Homo sapiens: one gene and its partners. The protein of the gene in region 4 interacts with the protein of the main gene of each other region in a biochemical or structural test. Each region holds a gene or a part of one and is shown on either strand. Other genes may lie near its edges.

Region 1 (5,014 bases), on a different chromosome or scaffold from region 4:
GTGTGTGCTCCTAGAGCTTCTGGAAGATCTGCCCTGGGTGAGGTGTCCACAGCAAGACTCGCGGGGCACAGGGGTGGCCGTCTGTTCTGCCCACCCTGAGCCTTGATGGCTGAGCCTTGAGCAGCTCAGCTAGGGGACCAAGGTGGCCCAAGGACAGCTCTGCCAGGCTGCTAAGGAGCTGGCCGTGCTCACTGGGAAAAGTAGCCCCTCCGAAGACCTCCCGCCCCCTTCCCCAGACACAGTAAATTAAGAATAATGACTGGAAAATTGCAGCTGCTGCAGCTCAGCTGGTTCCTGAGACGGCGTGTCTTGTTCTTACAGGGACGCGATTGTCACCACCTCCATCAACTCCCTGACGAGCTTCTCCTCCGGCTTCGTCGTCTTCTCCTTCCTGGGGTACATGGCACAGAAGCACAGTGTGCCCATCGGGGACGTGGCCAAGGACGGTGAGCCCCTCCTGCTGCACCTGGGCCTGCTCCGTGTAGCACCAGCGCCGAGCTCTCAGCAAAGCCTTTTTCCTTGTGAAAGAGGAAGGAGACGCATGGGCCCTGAGCGACTTCAGTGAGAGTTGCTGCCTCACTCTTGAAGGATGGTGGTACACATCCCAGTACAGACCTGCCCCCACCCAGCGCCTTCCCCGCCCTGACCCTCCAGGCCCCCCACCCAGCGCCTTCCCCGCCCTGCCCCTCCCGGCCCCCCACCCAGTGCCTTCTCCGCCCTGCCCCTCCAGGCCCCCCCACCCAGTGCCTTTCCTGCCTTGTGCCTCTCGGGGCCTCCACCCTGGGCTGGGGAACCTCAAGCCCAAATGCAGCTGAGCAGCATAGTTGGTGCCTCAGTCCCTCGACTGCTCCCTGCAGATGCCACATGAGGCTGCCCCACCAGGGTCTGGCGTAGATGCTGTCACTGAGGGCCCTCTAGATGTTTGCTTGCCACGCGGTGTGGGAACATGCAGCTCAGGGAAGGGGAGGAATGAGCTGTTCCAGCAACACCTGGAGGCAGGCTGGGATGCCGCAAACATCAGCTTGGCCACAGAGCAGCCGGGAGATCCCTGGGGCCTCCAGCACAGGGTGTCCCTGCCCGCTCCCCAGGCCGACGCATGACGCTGAGTGTCCCTGCACGCCTGGAGTTGTCTCCGAGAGGGTGGGGAGGGGTCCAGGTCTCGGGCAGGCACAGGTGAGTGGTGGGGGGAGGCCTTGGCCACAGCAAGAAGTGTGCCAGGCAGGATGGAGCCGGCAGGACGGGCACAGATGCAGGGGCTGAGAGTGGGCCCAGGCACTTGGGGCCACGTGCCTGGCTCCGGTGCTTGCAGTGGAAAGCTGTGGCGTTGGCAGCCCTAACTTGGGCCAACCGAGAGCTCCAGGGAGTCCCAAGGCTTCTCGGTCTCTGTCAGCCAGCAGAGCCCCCGCCTGCCTCCCGGCCTGCTCTGCCACATGGATGTGGAGGAGGCCCTTTCGCTCCAGACACGGGCCTGGGTTGGGTGGGCTCCCATGCTGCGTCCCCATCCTTGCTTCCTCTGGACTGTCTTCTCCGGGGGTGGGGTGGGGGCACTACATTTGTGAGGAATGATTGTGCTCAGAAAAGCCCCTGTCCCGTGTGGGTGTTGTTGCTGACTGATCTCTGCCTGGGTGTTGAGGCTCAGTGAAGGCGGGGAGCGACAAGCACCAAGCGGGGGCAGCCTTGACCGCACCTGAGTCTCACAGAGTGGGGCACTAGGACCCTCGCACCGCAGGTAGGAACACGCTCAGAGACCTGAAAGGGCCCACTCCATGCTTGCAACAGAAAGCCAGGGTCGGGGCTGGAGCCACAGCTCAGAGGTGGGCCTCCTAAGCCCATGTTCTTTCCACTAGGAAAAAAAATTCAGTCAAAGCGGGAGAAAGGGAACATCTGCAAATAAATGCAGAGCAGTGAAATTTACTCGGTGCCGCATTTATGCCTTTTCTTCATTCTTTTTGCCCTTTATTATGATAACGAGCATAGTTTGCAAAAACCTCTATTAACCCCTGAAAATAAAGTTGAATGTTCTTCTGTGCATTTCATGACAAGCAAAGTAAATGTCATTTACAGCCTTAATTCTCAAGAAAATAGGGTGAAATGTTAACTTAGGTACAGAAACGAAGGCACGGGTGTTGACATTACATTCCCTGAGCTGATGAATATCTTCCCAGGCTCCTGGCTGGTACCATCTAAGCCCCGGAACATCTCAGGCGAGCCTGCCTCCCCCACCCCACGCGGAGGCTGTCCCCATCCACCAGGGTATCTGGGAGCTGCGAGAGCCCAGGTCTGACCCCGCTGCTTGGCTGATAGTGAGGCCCCTGAAAGACCTTTAGGAACGGCCCCTGGCTCTGGCCTTTGATTATTTAAAAGGCCAGGCGCAGGCCTATTCCTGCAGGCTAGGGCCAGACACGTGCCTGCTGAGGACAGGGGACTCTGTTGCAGGCAGATTGGGCTTGGGAGATGGTGCCAGCCAGTGGAGGATGCAAGGCTTCTGAACTGGTCAAAGGTCAATTGCCTATGGGACTGGTTTTTACTTTGGGGTCATCAGAGACCAAACTGCGTTGACTTTTGGTCGCCTGCCTGCCACACTCTCGTCCCCTCCACCTCCATCCGAGTCTGCCTGCTGGTAGCAGGAAGCACGTGTCGTTTCCCGAGAGAGCTGTGGGGGAACACCTCCTCCGCCTTTGCCATGCCGCCCTCAGCCTGGCGTGCCCCTCGCTTGCAGGGATAGCAAGGTAGCAGGTTTGTCTCTTATCTCCGAAGCCACCATCTGGGCCCCTGTATCCATCAGGATGTGCTGCTCCTCTGAGCCCTCAGGGCCCCAGCTGACAGGAGCCTGTCTCAATATGGCCTGCGGGACCCCGTGGCAGGGGAGGTGGTGAAGGAGCCACACACTCCTCTACCAAGCTTCACTCGCAGGGACCCGCTCACTGTGGGTTCACAGCACATTGGCCAAGTGCAGCCACGTCTAACCTCACGGGAGGGTGGGAGGACCTCAGCTTCCTCATGTGCCTGGAAGGCGGAGGTCAGGAATGTATCCCTAAATGTTTTGCTAATTTTAGAAATTAGGCTACTAAATAGTGTGGACGTGTGTGATTTGTGTGTGTTTGTGTATGTTTGTGCATGCACGTGCATGTTTCTGTTTGTGTGCGTGCATGTGGATGTGTTCTTGCATGTATGAGTTTGAATGCACAAATGAGTGTTCGTGCATGTGCGCGCATGTGTCTGTGTGTGTATATTGCATGGTATGTGTGTCTGAGTGTGTATGTTGCATGGTATGTGTGTCTGAGTGTGTATGTTGCATGGTATGTGTGTCTGAGTGTGTATGTTGCATGGTATGTGTGTCTGAGTGTGTATGTTGCATGGTATGTGTGTCTGAGTGTGTATGTTGCATGGTATGTGCAGGAAAAACTAACTCGAAGGACATTAGCAGATGTCCCTGGGATGAAGGGCAGGACCAGCCTGGAAGCCCCTCCTGCTCCTCCTTGTTTCTGCCCCTTCCTTCCCCAAGCACCCCCATAGCCCAAAAGGACCCAGGTAATTTGGAGGAGCCCCATTGCTGGGTGGTGGGCATGAACCAAAGCCCTCTGATCAGTTCTGGGTTTCCGCTTTCCTGAGTCCCAGGCCTGGTCTGCTGGACATATAGAAGGGGGCTTTTCAGCAGAGCCGCACCAGCCCTAGTCTCTACAGGCCTGTGGCAGGCCATGCTTCTCGGGGCGGGGTGGGGCAGGATGGGCGGGAGAGCACAGCGTGGGCTCTGTGGCAAGCAGGGCGGGTTCTGTTTCAGGGCCAGGGCTGATCTTCATCATCTACCCGGAAGCCATCGCCACGCTCCCTCTGTCCTCAGCCTGGGCCGTGGTCTTCTTCATCATGCTGCTCACCCTGGGTATCGACAGCGCCGTGAGTAACCCGCACCGCCCGGCCCTGTCCTCGGCAGTTGGGTTCCTTCCACCCGAGGGGGCCCTGCCCTCCCAGGGCTAGGCAAGATCCCTGGGCTCACGTACGGCCCCCAGACCTCCTGTCCTTGACTTGGGCGAGCCCCGTGATTATTTGGGAGACCTTTCTCGGGGCTGGAGTGAGTGGTGACTGGAGTTTACCTTTCCCTTTATCCCCCTACTCTGGGGTACCTGTGTGCCCTGCCCTGAGCCACCTACAGATCCTGGAAATGTGCACACACATGCACACACACACATACACGCACACACATACACACATACACGAACACACACATTCACACCACCATGCACATGCATGCACACACATACACACATGCACACACGCACACATACATGAACACACACGAACACACACATGCACACACGCATGCACACACACATACACACAGACATGCATGCACGTGTAGCAGGGCCCCAGCCACCAAAGACTTGGCTCCGGACACCAGAGTGGTGGGGCCTTGGAGGGCACACAGCAGGTCCTTCATATCTCGTGGCTTTCCCTGGAAGCCTCAGCTACCCCATGAGGAATGAGGAGGGCAACAGAAGTTCCTGGCACCTACCAATCCCAGGCCTGGCCCTGAATGCTTTGTGTGTGGCCCCTGCACCTCCAGCTGCTGGGGGTGGCGGGTCCAGCCCTTGATCGGCCCTGGGCCTGCTGGACTTTCTCAGGCTCCTTCTTCCCTGTCAGCTGCTTGGGACCAAAGAACCCAGAATCCCTTGCCTTATAAACGCTGGTCATGCACCCGGCCCCCCACTCATATCCTATCCACCTCGTCCACGGCTCCTGGGTTGACCACAGGCCTCATGTTCCTGACATGAGAGCATGAAGAGGGGTCTGGACCGAGCAAGGTGAAGAAGGTCACTAAGCAGGAGTCAGGTGCCTGGACGGTGTCCCACAGGAGGATGCCAGGAGTCAGGAGGCTCCGTCGGGAAGGCGTAGCCAATGACAAGGCCAGGTGCAGCTGAAAGCTTTGTGTGGGGGACGCATCTTGCTCAGGAAAATCTGGCCAAGCTGAGCCCGTGCAGCAGCAGTGGACAGGGTGGCATTGTTTTAGCCATGCCGC
Region 2 (5,014 bases), on a different chromosome or scaffold from region 4:
GCATTCCTCTAAAGAAATCTACATGACATCTCTAAATATTTTACATATTATACATCACTTTGTGCTTAGGAAATGAAAGATGTTTCAGATTGATGACCACCAAGCCCTTTCTCCTGGCAAAGATGTGAGTTATGTCACAAATAAGGCATGGCTCAACTCTAATTCACGTGGCTGTATCTTGCTACCTTTGAAAAAAGCAGCGTTCGATCTGACTCCTCAGAAGGTTTGAAAATTCAACATAAAACATAAAGTACAGCAAGGTTTAAATTCCCAATTTTAAACAAACTAGATAATGAAATGTAGTTCATTCTTGCAAATACAGGCTATAAGTGATTAATCAAAATCGTCAACACTACTCGCCAAACCAATCTATACCAACATATTCAATAACTTTTTAAACCTGTCAAATAGTTCCAATTCTGGTCCTTATGAAATATTTTAGAGAAGGTCAAAATTTTCCAATGGAATGAAATTTTTAGAAATTCCCTGATATTTATTATTTTTTCGCTCGAATTAAACCTGTGAATAAAACCCTAATTGCTACTTTCTGTAGAAATGAAAGCTGCATGCAGAGCTTATGTTCCCATGAATTATAAAATGGCATTTTGAGTAATTCTATTAATCACAGAAGATATTGAGTGTGCTTGTAAAGAGCATGATGACTGATTTCCTCCCATTGTTGATTTATTAAATTAGTCTTATCACATTGATTTGAAAGCATGCACTTGCTGTTTTCTTTTTTCAAATAGTTAATTGTTTTGCATTTAGAGCATGATTTGGTATAGTAAGATAAATGTGGCTATGCAAGCCTTGGAAGGAGAAGCATTTATCTCACATAATTTTTTATTAGTTATGTTCACCAATATACGAACAGTGGTGACACTTCTACACATACAGCTTGGAACAGTTTATAAGACAACTAAAATGGCTTTATATTTCTAATCATAAAATATTAATGGCCTATGAAACTCTTATGTAGGCATTTCTAAAAACATGAATGTATATTGGTTGAGTACATAAAGTTTTGTTGATGAGCCCCAAGGCTAAAGATATACATTTTAGAATTTTACCTATTTTAAGTCAGATACAAACTCACTAGGTTTGTGAGTTTGTATCTAGTTAAGTCAATTGTATTCGTATATTAAACTCTTGCACATAAACTACACAACAGTTAGCTCATTAAGAGTCAATTGAATGTGACAAAATTTTTAAGCAAGTTTGAACATGCTAAGAGAAAATACTTTAAGTGTGTTATTCAGGTTTCTTAGCTTCCTATACATGGGTCCCGCCTCATGCATAGGCAATTTAATTATGTCTTTGTATATTTTGCATTTAAATATGATTTTAACCTAAGTTGTACAAAAAGATGAGGGACGCAAATTATTTTGATAAATAACTGCAGCCAGAAGTGCACTATACATATATATTGATATTTTAATAATGTCTGCACCATGAACAGGATTTGAGGTCTCAAAGAAGAAAAAAGGCTCTAGAAATTTCTCATCAGTGGTATCAGTACAAGAGGCAGGCTGATGATCTCCTGAAATGCTTGGATGACATTGAAAAAAAATTAGCCAGCCTACCTGAGCCCAGAGATGAAAGGAAAATAAAGGTAATGTTGTTTTAGAATGTCAATACCAGATTTTATTATACAGTTTAATTAACCTGTGAAGATCATATTTAAAATGTTGATGTTCTTGTTTCTATTAACGTTCTCTTTGATTTGATGCATTTCCTTGTATTGTGTGTTGTTTTCAGTAAATGTATTGTATTAAGTGTTATTCAATTGACGTAATGTTGAATGAATAAAATGTTTTAGACTATGTAAAGTGATTTAAGAAATGTGATGTGTTTTCTGGTAAAATTGTAATTGACTTTGTGTATCTTTGTTCCAGATGAACTAATGACTTATCGGTATATGGACGACTTCTTACTCATGTTAGCCCATTCATTTCATCAGAGCATCTTCACACATCAGTGTTCACTCTCTATAGATTTATTTGCATATTGTCTAAATATGTTTTTTTCTGTTATTATTTTACACTTTTTATTTTGCTTCATTCTCTGTTGAGTTCCTCAAACCTTTAAAAAGGAAATAAATAACTTATTCACTTACCCTCTAAATTATATTCTATGTGGACGGTCCCTAATAAATAATGAGTTATCACTCCAAATTGTTTCAAATCCCAAGACACCAGAGGAATTTAGAAGAAAGAAAATGTTAGACCAATTTCAATATTTACTTAATTAGAATATCTAAAACCAAGCATTCAAAGGATAACTGAAATAATATTTGGGTTATTGAGCGAGGATGACAGTCATGCCTTTCATATTTGTAAACTTCAAAGGATGACAATAAAGGGACAACAGCCTTTGAAATTTTGAGAGAAGTATTTGCTGCTTGCAAGTCGGTTGATGTGGTTAGCTAACTGCCCTGGGCCCTGTATTGGTTTTGCTCAATAGGAAATTGATCGGGAATTGCAGAAGAAGAAAGAGGAGCTGAATGCAGTGCGTAGGCAAGCTGAGGGCTTGTCTGAGGATGGGGCCGCAATGGCAGTGGAGCCAACTCAGATCCAGCTCAGCAAGCGCTGGCGGGAAATTGAGAGCAAATTTGCTCAGTTTCGAAGACTCAACTTTGCACAAATTGTGAGTTGTTACTGGCAAACCCACGTATGTGTTTGCAACTACTACTCTATTAACAGAGGCCTACTAATAAAAAAAAAAGAGACAAAAAATCTGGGTACAGTTTTAAACTTCTAATGTACATTCTGAAAGTGAGTGGTTTCCCTCACTTTGGGCTTCTGTAACACTAGTGCTTAATTTTGCCAATTAAAGACACAAGAAATTAACAGATAACAGGGAAAACCCCTTATCAAAAATGAAAATACATCTTAATTTTTTTTGCTACATCATTTTTCATAACATTGGCAATGTTAATTTGTCAATTTATCATACATTCACTTTACTTCAATGTCTAATCCAAAAAATATGTATTGCTTTCCTGAGATCATCCCATGCTGATTTTACTTTCTTAATGTATACATGATAAATAATAAATATTTCATGGTACATCTTATGTCAACCTGCATAAGCCATTATCTCATTGACTTGAAGAATAATAGCTTAATCCTCACACCTGGTTTAACTACTTAATGGGTTACAGTGCCCATAAAAGAACTGGATGCCTAGTAAGATGGTTGCTAATTGATTGCAGATTGAACAATATCAGATAATGTTATTACTGAAATGTTACCAGCCAAAACAAAAAGGAGTGACTGCTCTTCTTTCAAACAACTGAATGGAAAGTGTATGGTTCTCTCTTTAAAAAGGCGATTCAGAATTGTTAGCTTGGTCTCACTTCTTTATTTGTAGTAGGTATAAACCATAGAGGTTTTCTGACAGGTACATTTTTGTTCCTATTATTAACACTTGTAAGATGAAGAGGAATGATCATCATCTGTAATTATAGAAGAAAGTACTCCTCACAAAACCAGGATGTCAAAATCTGGAAACTAAGTCTTTATAGTTAAGTTAGGTTGAATTATATGAATCAAACAGATACTCAACCATTTTGCCCTATGTAAATAATAACTGCATAGGGTTCAGCCCATGTATGAGACTTCTTGGGAACTTCTTCTGTGATAGTGTCAGTTCCATTTAATTTGGTGTATATTTTTAAAATGTCAAAAGCAGTTACCATAACTTAATTTTATAAGCATATAAGGGAAGTATGTTGCATATTATTGTGACTTCTTTTAATACTTCAAGAAAATTAATAAATACACTGTTTTCTGTTAAATCTAATACCCTAAAGTTTAATAGCAGGTGAATTATTCTGAGCAATTGGAAGAATACGAGAAATAGCGAAACTGTATTGCATGTGAAGTCTAATTCCACCTGGCTGAATGTTTCAGCCTATTATCCTTCATATTAGATGTTATGAATGTAATGTGTCATAAATAACCTTACACTAACCAGCAAGCCTGTGTCTGCAGATGCAAAATGAAGCGAAAGATTAAGGCAATCAAAAAGAAAATTCTAATAAAATAGTTTCACCTCAATTTAATAGATCATTCAAGGGGGAGTCCTTTGCTTTGAATTATCTGACTACTAACTCATTTCTCCATTCCAATTTTCCCCAGGTCTTGACACACCCAATATGCAGGTTTAAAATTCGTTACAAACTAATCAAGTTGCTAATGCTTTATGGCTAAATAGGCACAGGATCAAAAATCTCCATAAACCACTTACTTAAAATGCCATTATGTCCCTATTCATAGTAGGCTCTCAACAAATATTTGTACAACGTAATAATGACTGGTGAAATAAAGGAAGCATGTGTGAACCAGTATATATTTTTAAAAAATTGTAGTAAAATTCTGGGATATATTTTCCTCATAAACGATTTATTCTTAAGTTTTATATATTAAAGATCCAAAATTCAGAATGTGAAGGGGGCTATTTTTGTGTTAACTCTTAATTATCCATGATAATAAAGTAATCACAATCTGTATGAAGAATAATCAATTTAATATTGCAGTTATATTTGGCATCGTATTTTAATTAGAACTGAGGGATAATTGATAGATGATAAGTAGGTATATAGGTTGGTAGGTAGATAGATAGACAGGTGGGTGTAGAAATATTCAAGATACATCTTTATACTTGACCAATTGTCAATGCATTTTAAAACTAATTTCACTGTGGCCACTGATTAGAGTTATCTTTCCCAATTCTTACGCCCTAGAGTCATTTGTGATAGTCACAGTAACAGCTTAATGAAAAGTAGTATTTGATATAACCTTACAATGGCTCTGATGCAGCATATGCCATAGCTTCAGAATTTCTTACCTCCCCCTATATTCTCCTTCTCTAATTGTTTGATTTTTACTTTTCCTAACTGTCCCTTTTTGTTTTTCTAGATATAAACTGTAGGCTTAAAGTTCATCTTTCATGTCTTTACAGCAACATGTTGAAATAGTAAGCGGTACTCTTAAAATGCTTAGTATGTGAG
Region 3 (5,014 bases), on a different chromosome or scaffold from region 4:
TTGCCATCACAGTTGCTACAATCGGCTCTTTCCAATTTGGCTACAACACTGGGGTCATCAATGCTCCTGAGAAGGTGAGTGCCAGGCCACAATAATTAGAATTTAGAATAGGGAAGTTATTCCTTTAAGTAGGGTTTCAGGAATTCAGAATTTAAGGCCAGGCATGGTGGCATCTGCCTGGAGTCCCAGCTACTCCTGAGGCTGAGGCTTAAAGATCACTTGAGTCCAGGAGTTAAACACCATCCTGAGCAACACAGTTAGTGAGGGTCCCTCCCCAAACTAGGGGATTTTAAGACAAACTTTGTATCTATCCTGTCCAAGACTGAAGATGGAGACAATATTGGTGGGGAAAATTAGTGGGGTCATCTAATCGAAGCACAAAGCTCACTTACTCCCGGAACGCTGGGCGGTGCTGTTCTTCCTCCCACTCTTTCACCTCATAGTGATGCACATCCTGTATTATCCCTTAGGGGTTAGTTACAAAGAAGCTGGGTTCCCTTAGCAGAGGGCTGGGGTAGACTGTGAACATCGGTGCTGCCACCTACTGGGATTTTCAGGACAAATAGAATTACTATTCCAGCGAGAGTTAACATAAATTCCAATACGTTATCTGCCCCTTCCATTCCTGTCTATTTATTCCCTTGATTCTCTAGGAAGGAAATGATCCCTAATGTTTGTCTTTTGTTCTCATCCAACTGTAACAGTCTGTTCTTCCACCAACCCTTTTATTTTGCAGATCATAAAGGAATTTATCAATAAAACTTTGACGGACAAGGGAAATGCCCCACCCTCTGAGGTGCTGCTCACGTCTCTCTGGTCCTTGTCTGTGGCCATATTTTCCGTCGGGGGTATGATCGGCTCCTTTTCCGTCGGACTCTTCGTCAACCGCTTTGGCAGGTATTGACTAGAAACTGGGCAAGGAAGTGGGCTCTACCAGCCACATTGAGGACAAGTGTGGAGAGTTAGGGCAGGGAGGTGATGATGCCTTTGAATAAGAACACCTTGAATTCTAATCAAGGGAAACCTAGTCCAACTGGCCCCGAATATGACTGCCCTTGCTTGGAGCTCTACTACCCTGGAGAGCTCCCACCCAGCTGTGCAAGAGATGAACTGTGAGTGATTGGCCTTTGCAGTCCAGCTAGGGATAGTTCAGAATTATTCCCTAGTAAACTCAACTATGGGGTTTCTAGAAACATACTTAATTTACAAGGTCCGAAGTTGTTTACTTGTATTATAAATGTTTTTATTATTTTACCCAGGATTGGTAGGAATTATTTTTGTCTATGGCAAATGTGGATAATGACAAAAAAAAAGTCTTATTCTATAGAAGCTTAACAATATGTTTTAGAAGGTAGAATATATTTTCATTTATGACTAATGAAGGAACTGTTTTAATTTGCCAATTAGGCACGGTGTGGTGGCTCACCCCTGTAATCCTAGCACTTTGGGAAACCGAGGCAAGTGGATCAGCTGAGGTCAGGAGTTCGAGACCAGCCTGGCCAACATGGCAAAACCCTGTCTCTACCAAAAATACAAAAATTAGCCGGGCGTAGTGACAGGCACCTATAATTCCAGCTACTCCGGAGGCTGAGGCAGGAAAATCACTTGAACCTGCAGTGGGGGTGCAGAGGGTGCAGTAAGCTGAGATCTGGCCACTTCACACCAGCCTGGGCGAAAGAGCAAAACCCCGTCTCAAAAAAAAAAAAGCCGGTGCCGTGGCTCACGCCTGTAATCCCAGCACTTTGGGAGGCTGAGGCGGGCAGATAACAAGGTCAGGAGATCGAGACCATCCTGGCTAACACGGTGAAACCCTGTCCCTACTAAAAATACAAAAAATTAGCCGGGCGTGGTGGCATGCGCCTGCAATCCCAGCTGCTTGGAAGCTGAGGCAGGAGAATCTCTTGAGCCTGGGAGGCGCAGGTTGCAGTGAGCCGAGATCCTGCCACTGCACTCCAGCCTGGGTGACAGACCAAGACTCCGTCTCCAAAAAAAAAAAAAAAAAATGCCAATTAGATATTCTAGAAATGCAATTGGAATTCACATTTAAAAATCGGTAAAGCAACCTGTTTTACTTGATTATGTTGTTCTTTTGTTTTTTTACCCCCCAAGAAAGAGGGTCTTGCTCTGTCACCCGGGCTGGAGTGTAATGGCCCAATCATAGCTCACTACAGCTTCGACCTCCGACCTCAGCTCCCTGAGTGCCTGGGACTACAGGCGGGCACCATCACACCTGGTTCCCAACTAGAAATGTTCTGATAATAGAAAGTGAAAAACAAAAGTTAGATTAAAAAAAAAAGGGATGATATGAGCCTGGAGAAGAACAGAATAATGAGGACAGAGGAGAAGTTAGGAGCCTCTCACTTTGCTAATTCTACTTTGTCTTTGATTAACCTTACAGGCGCAATTCAATGCTGATTGTCAACCTGTTGGCTGTCACTGGTGGCTGCTTTATGGGACTGTGTAAAGTAGCTAAGTCGGTTGAAATGCTGATCCTGGGTCGCTTGGTTATTGGCCTCTTCTGCGGACTCTGCACAGGTTTTGTGCCCATGTACATTGGAGAGATCTCGCCTACTGCCCTGCGGGGTGCCTTTGGCACTCTCAACCAGCTGGGCATCGTTGTTGGAATTCTGGTGGCCCAGGTACTCTAGAACTTCTCATACTTAATGAGTGTTAGTTTCATGGGTCATTAAAAAAGTTAACATAGGTAAAGCACTGAAGAATATCTGGCACATGTTCAATTACATATGGAAGTTTTAGATAATAGATAGTAGCTGAAGAAGCAGGCTGAGGCCGGGCGCTGTGGCTCACGCCTGTAATCCCAGCACTTTGGGAGGCCGAGGTGGGCAGATCACGAGGTCAGCAGATGAAGACCAGCCTGGCTAACATGGTGAAACCCCATCTCTACTAAAAACACAAAAAATTGGTCGGGCGTGGTAGCGGGCACCTGTAGTCCCAGCTACTCCGGAGGCTGAGGCGGGAGAATGGCGTGAACCCGGTAGGCAGAGTTTGCAGTGAGCCGAGATTGTGCCACTGATCTCCAGCCTGGGTGACAGAGCAAGACTCCGTCTCAAAAAAAAAAAAAAAAAAAAAACCATGCTGAGTAGAGAAAGGAAAAGAAACACAATTTGTTTATTTTTTCACATGGTAAAAGAATGTATGATTTTCTGAACTTTTTGTGTTTTAATGAACTTGTGGCCTGTGAAGTATGGGGTTTATAGCATTATCTTTGTGTGGTTTCTAGATCTTTGGTCTGGAATTCATCCTTGGGTCTGAAGAGCTATGGCCGCTGCTACTGGGTTTTACCATCCTTCCTGCTATCCTACAAAGTGCAGCCCTTCCATTTTGCCCTGAAAGTCCCAGATTTTTGCTCATTAACAGAAAAGAAGAGGAGAATGCTAAGCAGAGTGAGTATCCTTCACACCTTACTACATGAATTATATGGTTGTGGTTTGTTTTAGGGATGATTGTACTGGACCTACTTTCTGTTACACTCTTTCCCTGCCTCTCAGAATCCAAGTGAGGAGGGTTCTGATTACTCCTGAGTAAAATTTTCAGCCCCTAAAGAATGAGGTGAAAAGGCGGGTTTAGGAATGGATGCTATCAGGCAGGGTGTGATGGCTCATGCCTGTAATCCAGCATTATAAGAGGCCGAGGCGGGTCACCTGAGGTCAGGAGTTCAAGACCTGCCTGAAACAACATGGAGAAACCCTGTCTCTACTAAAAATACAAAATTAGCCGGGCATGGGGGCGCATGCCTGTAATCCCAGCTACTTGGGAGGCTGAGGCAGGAGAATCGTGTGAACCCGGGAAGTGGAGGTTGCAGGGAGCTGAGATCATGCCATTGCACTCCAGCCTGGGCAACAAAAGTGAAACTCTGTCTCAAAAAAAAAAAAAGGAATGGATGCTACCCATCACCTCACCTCGTGCGGCCCTTTCCTGGCTGCCTTACAGGAAGAATGAATTTGGGGCAGCACATTCTCTTTTATCCTTTCCTCTTTCTTCTTTTCACCAGTCCTCCAGCGGTTGTGGGGCACCCAGGATGTATCCCAAGACATCCAGGAGATGAAAGATGAGAGTGCAAGGATGTCACAAGAAAAGCAAGTCACCGTGCTAGAGCTCTTTAGAGTGTCCAGCTACCGACAGCCCATCATCATTTCCATTGTGCTCCAGCTCTCTCAGCAGCTCTCTGGGATCAATGCTGTGAGTGTGATACTTTAGGGTCAAACGTGTCTTAAAGTATTTCACTTAAAATGCCGGGCATGGTGGCGGTGTGCCTCTGTAGTCCCAGCTACTCAGGAGGCTGAGGTAAGAGGATCACTTGAGCTCAGGAGTTTCAGGTTGCAGTGAGCTATAATTATGCCACTGCATTCCAGCCTGGGAGACAGAGTGAGACTGTGTCTCTGAAATTTAAAAAAAGGAAAAAAAAAAAAGACCCTGGAAGGACACTGGCAACTTCAGAGTGAACTGACTTTACCAGTCTGTTTTTACAACTAGTATAGCGAGCATGGTAGTTTAAAGAGGGCATGATAGATGATAGTTTAAAGAGGGCGGCACAACGGAAGCTAGCATTTGGCAGGTAGCCCTTGTATTCCATGCAAATATCAGCTTCCTGCATTTGACTGTGGATTGTAGGAAGAGAGTATTCCTGTGCCTTCTAGTCAATATGGATATTAAGAGCACCCTTGTCCCACCTTTTTAAATACTGATTCATCCCCTAAGGGTTTTCAGATAGTCTTTGATCAATGGGATTAAATTATTTTGTAACAAAGCATTTTGCAAAACTTACTATTTTGAGCATTTTGATGCTCAAAATAGTAAGTTGGTTCTTGGAACTTTTCTCCTACCTAGCACACCAGGATATTTGTATTTGAAGTGGCAGTGCTTCTTATGAGGGGTTAGAGGCTGTTATGTCAGAATCTATGAGGAGCCAAGTGTGGTGGCTGCTCATGCCTGTAGTCCCAGCTACTACTCGGGAGGCTGAGGTGGGAATATCACTTAGGCCCAGGAGTCAAGC
Region 4 (5,430 bases):
CCTCAGCCTCCCAAGTAGCTGGGATTACAGGTGTGCGTCACCATGCCCAGCTAATTTTTATATTTTTGTAGAGACAGGGTTTTGCCATGTTGGCCAGGCTAGTCTTGAACTCCTGGCCTTAGGTGATCCACCCACCTCAGTCTCCCAAAGTGCTGAGATTACAGGCATGAGCCACCACGCCCAGAGGCCTTGGCTTTTATAGAGTAGGACATCAAATCCTTCCAGCCAGGATCAGAGAGGAGTTTTGTGGAGGAACCTTGGTTGAATGGCTTTCTCCACTGTTCCCTCACAGTGTGGTCTTGGGTGGGACCCTTGCCCTCTGTGGGCCTCGGTTTCCCCATCAGTTGTTACACGCCTCCTGCTGAGGTTGTCCCATGACCATCTTGTGCCATGTCTCTCAAGAGGTTTCTGCTTTGCTCAGCCCTTTCCTCAAACTCTGTCAGCTCTGGAAGCCCCGTGGGGGCCTGAGGAATGTGTCTCTGGCTTATGGCCCAGAACAGGCACAGGGAGGTGGCGGGGGCTGATGGAGAATAACACGGCCAGAGAAGCTGCTGAGTTGAGTCCCAGGCCCAAATCCTGGTGGGTTGCCTTGGTTTCCCTAAAGGAGTGTCCAAGAGGCCACAGAAGCAAATAGGTTCTCGGTCCTTGGTTGACCCAGATATAAAATAAAATAAAATTTAAATAAAGAAAATAAAATGTAAAGTTTTATTTTATATTTTAGGTATATCTATTTAAATGCCATGGATGCATTTTTTTTTCTTGTTTTTTTTTTTTTTCGAGACAGGGTCTTGCTCTATCACCCAGGCTGGAGTACAGTAGTATGATCTTGGCTCAATGCACCCTCCACCCCCCGGGGCTCAAACAATCCTCCCACCTCAACCTCCTGAGTGGCTGGGACTACAGATGCATGCCACCACACCTGGTTAATTTTTTTTTTTTTCTGAGATGGAGTCTCACTCTGTTGCCCAGGCTGGAGTGCAGTGGCATGATCTCGGCTCACTGCAACCTCCGTCTCCCGGGTTCAAGCAATTCTTCTGCCTCCGCCTCCTGAGTAGCTGGGATTACAGGCACCCACCACCATGCCCGGCTAATTTTTTTATTTTTAGTAGAGATGAGGTTTCACCATATTGGCCAGGCTGGTCTCAAACTCCTGAGCTTGTGATCCACCTGCCTCAGCCTCCAAAAGTGCTGGGATTACAGGTGTGAGCCCCTGCGCCTAGCTTTTTTTTTTTTTTTTTTTTGAGATGGAGTCTTACTCTGTCGCCCAGGCTGGAGCAGTGGCGCGATCTTGGCTCACTGCATCCTCCGCCTTCCAGGTTCAAGCGATTCTTCTGCCTTAGCCTTCCGAGTAGCTGGGACTACAGGTGCGCACTACCACGCCTGGCTAATTTTTTTTTTGTATTTTTAGTAGAGACAGGGTTTCACCATATTGGCCAGGCTGGTCTCGAACTCCTGACCTCGTGATCTGCCTGCCTCGGCCTCCCAAAGTGCTGGGATTACAGGCGTGAGCCACCACACCTAGCCAATTTTTTGTAGAGACAGGGTTTCACCATGTTGCCTGGGCTGGTCTCCAACTCCTGGGCTTAAGGGATCCTCCCACCTAAGTCTCCCAAAGTGCTGGGATTGCAGGCCACAGTGCCCAGTCTAGATGCATTTTTTTGATACTTAAAAAAAGCTGACTCTAGAGTGTTGATCCTTAGAAGCTTAAGTGTATCAATCATATTTTAATGGCAAAGTTAAATAATAGAATGCCACATAAATGATATGGATATAAGAGACTTTCCCCACATGCCTCATTACTTTGATATTTATAGTCAGCAATGCGGTTTGAAACCACTGACATTCATCGAAATGTCATATTTTAGTTGACTTGAAAGCTCTTTTAGCTTCTGTTGTTTGAAAGTTTAGTCTATGGTAAAATTTCTGCTATAGACACAATTCAAATCCACATTCACACGGAGGTCCCCTCACCTCCTCATCTTTATTTTTTATTTTTATTTATTTATATTTTTGAGACAGAGTCTTGCTCTGTCACCCAGGTTGGAGTGCAGTGGCGGGATCTCGGCTCACTGCAAGCTCCGCCTCCCGGGTTCACGCCATTCTCCTGCTCAGCCTCCCAAGTAGCTGGGACTACAGGTGCCCGCCACCACGCCTGGCTAATTTTTTGTATTATTAGTAGAGATGTGGTTTCACCGTGTTAGCCAGGATGGTCTCGATCTCCTGACCTTGTGATCTGCCCGCCCCGGCCTCCCAAAGTGCTGGGATTACACGCGTGAGCCACCGCGCCCGGCCCACCTCCTCATCTTTAGATTAAAAATGTATCTATCTGGGTTCCCATGTATGTCGTTTTGAGAAGGTAGTATCTGTAAATGTGTGACCTTGAAGCATCTTCTGACTTTAGGAGTGAATACTCAAGCCTTCCCTCTAACTCATGTCATGCATTCCTCCTCACTAAGCCAAGAGACATTCATGGACATCTACTGTGTGCCTGCTGTGTATATTAAGGTCAGAAGCTAAACTACACCCAGGGCCTCTCCTGAAGGAGCTCACCATGTGGTAGGGTAGACAAAACATAAACACTATCTCCTCTACACAAACTGTGTTTTTTTCTTGAGGCAGGGTCTCACTCTGTTGCCCAGGCTGGAGTGCAGTAGTGCGATCTCAGCTTACTGCAACCTCCTTCTCCCAGGTTCAAGCGATTCTCTGCCTCAGTTCTGTAGCTGGAATTACAGGTGTGCACCACCACGGCCTGGTTAATTTTTGTATTTTTAGTAGAGACAGGGTTTTGCCATGTTGGCCAGGCTGGTCTCGAACTCCCGGCCTCAGTGATCTGCCTGCCTGGGCCTCCCAAAGTGCTGGGATTACAGACGTGAGCCACCATGCCTGGCCTACAGAAACTCTTTAAAAGCCGGTGGCTAGGTGCTGTGACTCACGCCTGTAATCCCAGCACTTTGGGAGGCTGAGGCGGGTGGATCACCTGAGGCCAGGAGTTTGAGACCAGCCTGGCCAACATGGCGAAACCCCGTCTCTACTAAAAATACAAAAATTAGCTGAGCCATGGTGGCGCGTGCCTGTAATCCCAGCTACTCAGGAGGCTGAGGTAGGAAAATCTTGAACACGGGAGGCGGAGGTTGCAGTGAGCCGTGATTGTGCCGCTGCACTCCAGCCTGGGCGACAAGAGCAAGAATCCATCTCAAAAAAAAAAAAAAAAAAAAAAAAAAAGCTGGTGCCTGAAATCCTGTCTGCTCTGCAATAAATCTCTGTTTGGCCTTGGGTAAGACCCTTGCCTTCTAGGGGACTCAGTTTTCCTATTGAAGTTAGGCTAGATCAGAGGTGATCAATAGCTTTTATTTAGAGTGGCAGCTCCAGGCAGGCGTGGTGGCTTACGCCTGTAATCCCAACACTTTGGGAGGCTTAGGTGGGCAGATCACTTGAGCCCAGGAGTTCGAGACCAGCTTGGGCAACACAGTGAGATTTCATCTCTGTAGGAAAAAAAAAAAAAAGAGTGTAAGCGTCAGCTCCACTGGTGGTTCTGTGAGTTCCATATTTGGAAGGATTGGGAGGCTTTGTCTGGGCTCAGCAGAAAGGAGCTGGAATTGATTAGCAATGTCTACTACAGATGCAGTAGAGAAGTAACATGTGTATCATCCCAGGACTGAGGGGCCCCTGCTCTTATATTCTCTGAGATGTTTCACAGGACGAGATCATTCCTTGGTGAACCCTGCCTATGGCCTGGGTAAGAGAAAGAAGAATGTGGCCTTCATGTTTTTCCCCACTTTTCCTTAGTTGAAGTCTTTTTCGACCTATTCTCCTGGCCCAAGATCTCATGGAAGGAGGTCATTCCACTCAAGATAGCACAAAGAGGGGAGGAGGAGTGGTGGAAGGCACTGGAGTCAGGAATCTCTGAATGGCAAGAGTGATCAGAGAGGTCTGAAGGATAGGAGGATGCTGGGCTGTGGCTGGTCCTTGAGACTTTGGGGAGTGGAGAAGGTCTGGGCCTGGCAGTTGCACCAGTCTGGAGCAGCCAGGGTTCCTGGGACCCTCTCTGGGCCTAGGTTTCCCCGGAGTTGAATCACTGACCACATTGTTCAACATTTCCCCACTCACATCCCATTACTGAGGACGCCTCCAAGGGGCCATGGAAGGATGGCCTGTCCTTTGGATGTGAACTTGGCAAGGCAACTGGATATTTTTCCAGCTCAGTGGATAGTGAATCCCCTGAGGATGTCCTGGGAGAACAAGCATTACCAGCAAACTCCAGGTGTCAGCTAGAGCCTTACTTCCCTGGCCTAAGTTGGGGGCTCAGCTGAGCCTCAGCAACCCCAACCTGCCTCCTAGAACATTTCTTCTACTAGGTCAGGGGTTTGCAGAAATGTCCTGATCCTGTTCTCAGCCAGAGGGGTGTGTTTGTGACCACAGTCTGGGCCCAAGTTGGCAGCCAACAAGTGTCTGTCCGCTGCTTCGAGAGGCCCGTTGTGTGTGCAGACCTCAAGCCAGGGCCAGCCTGGGCCCTTGAAGGCCAGGCCTGGGGGAAGAGGGAGGGACAGCCTCAAGGAAAACACCCTTCCCTCCTCCCATTCCAGTGTGGCTGGCAGGACTGTGACAACAGTGAGCCTGTCATGCATTAAAAATAATGCTGGCTGGGCGCGGTGACTCATGCCTGTAATCCTAGCACTTTGGGAGGCTGAGGCAGGCAGATCAACTGAGGTCAGGGGTTCGAGACTAGCCTGGGCAACATGGTGAAACCCCGTCTCTACTAATAATATACAAAAATTAGCTGAGCATGGTGACACGCGCCTGTAATCCCAGCTACTCGGGAGGCTGAGGTAGGAGAATTGCTTGAACCCAGGAGGCAGAGGTTTCAGTGAGCCAAGATCGAACCATTGTACTCCAGCCTGGGGCAACAAGAGCAAAACTCCATCTCAAAAAAAAAAGAAAAAAGAAAAACCCGACAAAAAACAAAAAATAATACTAAGGCCAGGCAAGGTGGCTCACGCCTGTAATCCCAGCACTTTGGGAGGCTGAGGTGGGTGGACCACCTGAGGTCAGGAGTTCGAGACCAGCCTGGCCAAAATGGTGAAACTCCATCTCTACGAAAAATATAAAAATTAGCTGGGCGTGGTGGCAGGCACCTGTAATCCCAGCTACTCAGGAGGCTGAGACAGGAGAATCACTTGAACCCAGGAGGTGGATGTCGCAGTGAGCCAAGATTGCACCACTGCATTCCAGCTTGGGTGACAGAGTGAGTCTCTATCTCAAAAAAAAAAAATTAATAAAGTGAATTTTAGTGCTTTATATAAAGTAAGGAAGGTATAGCCCTCATAGAGATCAGGCTTTTATTTATTTATTTAGGATCTCACTCTGTTGCCCAGCCTATAGCACAGAGGTGTGATTGCAGCTCACTGCAGCCTCAACTCCTGGGCTCAAGCG

The links. Proteins that work in one complex are often made in the same cells at the same time.
Region 1: the proteins of SNTA1 (region 4) and SLC6A3 interact in a test that uses a peptide from one of them, tested with the Homo sapiens proteins (2 studies listed by BioGRID and IntAct).
Region 2: the proteins of SNTA1 (region 4) and DMD form a complex in vitro, tested with the Homo sapiens proteins (2 studies listed by BioGRID, with this or other methods).
Region 3: the proteins of SNTA1 (region 4) and SLC2A3 interact in a test that uses a peptide from one of them, tested with the Homo sapiens proteins (2 studies listed by BioGRID and IntAct).

What each region holds. Positions count from the first base shown.
Region 1 is NC_000005.10:1,410,123-1,415,136, reverse strand, and holds part of SLC6A3 (sodium-dependent dopamine transporter), read left to right. Parts: intron 1-321; coding exon 322-446; intron 447-3,781; coding exon 3,782-3,894; intron 3,895-5,014. UniProt on the Homo sapiens protein: Mediates sodium- and chloride-dependent transport of dopamine. Also mediates sodium- and chloride-dependent transport of norepinephrine (also known as noradrenaline). Regulator of light-dependent retinal hyaloid vessel regression, downstream of OPN5 signaling.
Region 2 is NC_000023.11:32,339,732-32,344,745, reverse strand, and holds part of DMD (dystrophin), read left to right. Parts: intron 1-1,459; coding exon 1,460-1,612; intron 1,613-1,895; coding exon of another isoform or gene 1,896-1,904; exon of another isoform or gene 1,905-2,379; intron 2,380-2,463; coding exon 2,464-2,646; intron 2,647-5,014. UniProt on the Homo sapiens protein: Anchors the extracellular matrix to the cytoskeleton via F-actin. Ligand for dystroglycan.
Region 3 is NC_000012.12:7,928,870-7,933,883, reverse strand, and holds part of SLC2A3 (solute carrier family 2, facilitated glucose transporter member 3), read left to right. Parts: coding exon 1-74; intron 75-736; coding exon 737-897; intron 898-2,398; coding exon 2,399-2,639; intron 2,640-3,241; coding exon 3,242-3,404; intron 3,405-4,012; coding exon 4,013-4,200; intron 4,201-5,014. UniProt on the Homo sapiens protein: Facilitative glucose transporter. Can also mediate the uptake of various other monosaccharides across the cell membrane. Mediates the uptake of glucose, 2-deoxyglucose, galactose, mannose, xylose and fucose, and probably also dehydroascorbate.
Region 4 is NC_000020.11:33,432,775-33,438,204, reverse strand, and holds part of SNTA1 (alpha-1-syntrophin), read left to right. Parts: intron 1-5,430. UniProt on the Homo sapiens protein: Adapter protein that binds to and probably organizes the subcellular localization of a variety of membrane proteins. May link various receptors to the actin cytoskeleton and the extracellular matrix via the dystrophin glycoprotein complex.